Linked DNA regions of Homo sapiens: region 2 is linked to region 1. The links come from fine-mapping of genetic effects on gene expression. Tissue or cell type: whole blood. Region 1 holds a variant in brackets; the other region holds the start of a gene. All regions are shown on one strand. Distances are from middle to middle.

The links. PIP is the estimated chance that this variant, and not a neighbour inherited with it, causes the effect.
Region 2: it holds the start of HOPX, and the variant in region 1 is fine-mapped to the expression of HOPX in whole blood (INTERVAL, PIP 0.96).

What each region holds. Positions count from the first base shown.
Region 1 is chr4:56,617,268-56,620,029 of GRCh38, reverse strand. It overlaps a transcript of SPMAP2L not described here. Among named protein-coding and RNA genes, the nearest start is that of HOPX, 63 kb to the left of the region's middle. RefSeq lists a silencer at 727-816. The variant C/T (reference allele first, on the strand shown) is at 1,313.
Region 2 is chr4:56,679,820-56,682,440 of GRCh38, reverse strand. HOPX (HOP homeobox) reads left to right here and starts at 1,145. Exons shown (of 4, transcript NM_032495.6): 1 at 1,145-1,186. RefSeq lists a silencer at 1,098-1,147.

The DNA.
Region 1 (2,762 bases):
CCCAGCCAGCCAGCCTTAGCTGTGACTCTGCAGTGCCTGGTAGAGCTGCCTATGACATTCCTCAAGTCAGCCCTGCAGACCATCCTACAACAGCCACTCCATGGAGATCAGAGCTATATAAGCTAGTTTTTTTCTGTTTTTGTTTTTGTTTTTGTTTTTTTAGTATTGAGTTGTAGGAGTTCCTTATATATATTGGGGTTTAACCCCTTATCAAATAGTTTGCAAATATTTTCTCCCACTTCACGGATTGCCTTTTCACTCTGCTGATTTTCTTTACTCTGCAGAAGCTTTTTAGTTCATTGTAGTTTCACTTACTTATTTTTTAGTTTTGTTGCCTATGCTTTTGACGTTATATTGTGAAGATGTGGAAACAGCCTAAATGTTCATCTGCAGATGAACAAATAAATAAAAATGTGGTATATATACACAACAGAATATCCTTCAGCCTTAACAAAGAAGGAAATCCTGCCTCATGCGACAATATGGACTAAGCTTAAGGACATTGTGCTGAGTGAAATAAGCCAGTCACAGAAAGACAAGTACTGTATGATTCCACTTACATGAGGTATCTAAAACAGTCAAATTCATAGAATCAAAGAGTGGAATGGTAGTTGCCAGCCACTGGGGGGAGGAGAAATGGAACGGTACTAACAACAGGCATCAAGTTTCAGTAAAGCCAGATGAATAAGCTCTAGAAATCTGCCACATTGTACCTATACAGTAGTTCCTCCTTAACTGCAGTTTTGCTTTTAGAGGTTTCAGTTACCCAAGGTCAATCACAGTCTGAAAATAGGTGAGTAGGGTACAATGCAATATTTTGACACAGAGAGAGAAACCACATTTACATAACTTTTATTGCAGTATATTATCACAATTATTCTATTTTATTACTAGCTATCATTGTTCATCTCTTACAGTGCCTAATTTATAAATTAAACTTTATCATAGGCATGGTGTCCTAATTAGGGAAAAGGAGTCAGGCTTGTAGGACCAGGGGAAAGCAAAGAGATAAAGCAAATAAGCCATATGTCTGCCTTTCTTCATGGTCCAGAACATATAAACAAAAACAGGAAGCAGATAAGCTACAGGGCTGCTTTTCTTTATGGCCCAGGACATATGGCCCTCCTGCACAGATAACGTACAGAACTCCCAAACTTCCTGTTTATCATCAAATGATTCAATTTTTCAAACACCCCGGCTGGCAGAAGAATGCAAGTTAAGCTCCGTGCTGCTTTGGCATTATCAATCAGCCCAAGTTCCGTTCTATAAAATCCTCAGCAAGCCTTTTGACATGGTTTGGCTGTGTCCCCAC[C/T]CAAATCTCATCTTGAACTGTAGTTCCCATAATCCCCCTGTGTGGTGGGAGGGACCAAGTGGGAGGTAATTGAATCATGGGGGCGGTAACCTTCATGCTGTTCTTGTGATAGTGAGTGAGTTCTCACGAGATCTGATGGTTATATGAGGGGCTTTTCTTTTTTTGCTTGGCACTTCTGGGTTCTGCCACACCGTAAAGGACATTTGCTTCCCCTTCTGCCATGATTGTAAGTTTCCTGAGGCCTCCCCAGCCCTGAAGAACTGAGTCAATTAAACCTCTTTCCTTCATAAATTATTCAGTCTTGGGTATGTCTTCATTAGCAGCGTGAGAAATAACTAATACACCTTTGTTTCCTTGCAGTCCGCTCCTTTTGTGCTGGTTCTGCCTGCTGCCTCCTGGCAATGTATTTTCATACTTTCTCTAATAAACCTGCCTTTCTTATTTACAACTGTCTTGGTAAACTCTTTTATCCCCTACTGATATGGGAGTGCTGGGAAGGGAAGAGAGTGGTCCCTTTAAATGATATGAAAGTGGAAAAGGGAAATGCTGGGTAGAGGAGGGTGTGATCACTGGCCAGGGCTCTACCCTCATGGACCTAGGTGAGGACAGGCACATCTGCCTTCCCACCCAAATGTTGCATCTTCCAAGACCACCCTGGCCATGTAAAAGCCCGAGACCCTAGCAAGGCAGAGACACAAGCGGCTGGATGTTGTGAGCAACAAGGCAGAAGAAGACATAAGCGGCTGGTTGTGGAGAGCACACTGGTGGAAGAGCACGCCAACAAGCACTGGCAAGCCATTGACCAGCAGAAGGACGCAGAATTTGGACGGAGCAGTCAGAGGCGACCTGACTCCAGGGGAAAACCATCTCCCTTCTGGCTCCCCCATCTGCTGAGAGCTACTTCCACTCAATAAAACTTTGAGTTCATTCTCCAAGCCCACGTGTGATCAGATTCTTCTGGTACACCAAGGCAAGAACCCTGGGATACAAAAATCCCTCTGTCCTTGTGATAAGGAAGGGGGTCTAAATGAGCTCGTTAACACAAGCCGCCTATGTTGTCCGGACAACTAAACAAAAAGAGCACCCTGTAACACATGCCCACTGGGTCTTCAGCTGTAAACGGCACCCCTAGACACTGCCGTGGGGTCAGAGCCCAACACCCTGCCCATCTGTATGCTCCCCTAGAGGTTTGAGCAGTGGGGCACTGAAGAAGGGAGCCACACCCCCAATGCATGCCCTATAAGGGGGAAAAGAGGCCCTTTCCCCTTTCACTACCACCGGCTCAGGTAGTCCTTGCCACCCCACAACAATAGGTAGGTAGGTAGTAGGAAAAAACATAATACAGTCATGTGCTGCACAACGACATTTTGGTCAATAATAGACCAAGTATATGACAGTGGTCCCATTAGATTATAATATTGTATTTCTACAGTGCCTTTTCTATGTTTAG
Region 2 (2,621 bases), 62 kb before region 1:
ATAACCGTCACCCCCTTTTCCAAGAGGGAAAGAGGTATTCTGAATGAGCGCTGCTCTTCTTTCACATATGGCTACTGTTCCCAAGAGACTCAAGTGGGCTTTCTCTTTCTCTGCTGAAGTGAATAATATAGGGTGTGGCTCTCTGGATGGCACTTACCGGTTTGTGCTACAAACCAGCAAATACACACAGATAATCCCACAGATGATCTCACCAGACCTTGTCTCCCTTCCCTCATTCCCTCAAAATCATACCCACCTAATAATGTTTAGTGCACTGCAATTGAGTATTAGCTCCCGTATCTAGCTAATAAAATACGTAAACATCCAACAGCCGGGTCCTCACACCCACACACATACCCTCGCCTTTAGAAACATTTCCACGGATTGTCACACGAGCCCCTAAACTCTCTGTCACACTCTGCATGCATCTTCCCACAGACTTGCTCACACACTGGCTTTTTATTCGCAAGCCCATGGGGAATCTTTCACCTCTTAGACAGGAATTTCATTAACGAAGGGGAGGGGATGGTAAGAGGAAAGTACAGATGCAGGGGAAATAAATGAGAATCGTTTTTGAGGGAGACCTAAAACTGTATCATCCTAGCCCGAATCTCTCCCTTTTAACTGTTCTTTATGTGTACATTCTGTGCCCAAAAGAAAACAACCTTTCATTAATTGGGCAATTGTCCAGGCTCTTAGCTTGGCATCCAGCTCTCAGAGCTGTGAAATCAACCGCACCAGATCTACGCTTTGAAATGAGGCAACATCTAACTGGAAACTCGCTCAAAGTAAGGAAGTGGATGAGAAGACTCAGGGTCCCTTTTCTCTTCCCCGTCTTCTCTCAGCCACATCTCTCTTATCCTATCTTGGTGAAGAAGCTTGCTTGGCTAGGAGAGAGGTCAGGGACGAGAAGATAGTGACGAGAAAGTTCCATGAGACTCTCAGAAGTCCCAGCCTGAACATCAAACCTGAATAACCAGGAGAGACGTAACCTCGGCATACTTTCAGTGGTTTACCTCCTGCCCACGCTGCAGGTTTTTCAGGTCCTTGCTCGAGTGTGTGCTCATAGGCGTAAATAAACGTGCTATCAGCAGCCTGCGTCAGCCAGCCCAGCTATTTAAGCAGGCTGGCATCAGCAAACACAGCTTCCAAACCCAGGGCTTGCGCTTGCCTTTGCCTCTTCCACGTAAGTACCTTTCAAAGGTCTGCCTTTTATGCAGAGGAATGAGTTTGTGCAGGAACTAGACCAAAATGCTATCGTTACCGTATTTGCTCATCTGTTGGAAAACGGTAGAGGTGAAAGGGAGAATAGGAATGACAAGCTTACCCCCAAGCAGAAGCTAGGAAATGCTGCTGGGTGTAAGACATCAGTCCCTTACAAACAAAACTGCATGGGGTCGAGGGGAATTTGGAGGAAGGGGAGTTGGTGTTGGTCTTTTGGCCAAGCAGGTGAGATGTTTTTCTTACTCGCTTCTATTTTGGAAAGATAACTTTGAAACCAGCATTTGTCAGATGCCTATGATTTTCTCATTTAGAAGCAGATTATTGTTATTCTACATCCCAGACTTTTATCTAAAATCAGACATAATATCGTTTTAAAATATGTTTTGTGTTTGACAAGGGGAAGTGAGGGAGCTGTCTCTGGATGGAGAAGTGGCTTGATTTTGAATTTGCAGTTTATTGTTACTTCTGGTTCTCATAATACTTATTTATAACAACAAAAACAGTGATTTTTTTTTTTTGAGATGAAAAGGAATCCCAGGCTCTGGGGTTTAGAGAAAGTATAGGTTTGTGATATGTGAGTGGCATCCAAGTATTCAGGGTAAACTGTTAAGTAAAGTGGAATAAGAATCATTGAATAAAAAGGTACAATCTATCACATAGTTCAGATAAGAAGCTCTTAAAGAGAAAAGGAATGCAAACAGTTCCCATGAAGTGGCACTGCTACTGGACAGGGCCCTGTAGTGTGTTTAGTTAAGTAAGGTTAAGTATAACCAGGGCAGGCAGAGAACAAAACGAAGGTGCTGGGGAGGTGGGAAGGGAGGAGAAGGGAGGAGCAGATAGTAAAGGATTTATAATTAAACAACAGATTCATGAAAAGCAGATAGGAATAGAGCAGGGCATTAATTCCATAGTCTATCCCTTTGTATCAAGAATCTGGTGAAAGCCAAGGACCTTTCTCAGGTATTCATTCCTCGCTTCCTGAGCCTCCCCTTCCACCCCACACCCCAACCCACACCTTGACTCTCACTTTCTGGACTCCTAGAAGTCCACGGACCTAAATGAAGCTCATATGCTTATTATTATTTTTTTTTAACTGGGCTGAAGCTGCCGACTGAGGAACCTCTCCAGAAGTGGTGGCGAGTTAAAAACCTTCAACGTGGCAGGCACTTCTTAGCCACCAAACTGAAGCTTGGTTTTAAGTTCATGAAGGTCTTATGTCAATCAAGCAAATAATGATTAAGGGCTATATCTGAGAAAAGATAAGTTGAAGGCCAAGAGGAAGAGAAAAGAAAAAATGGATCTTGTTCTCAAAGAGCTTGAAATCTAAAGTCCAGGGAGATAATTAGATGTTATGTCCATGCACAAAATAGGATGTGTTGAGTGATTACATTTGTATA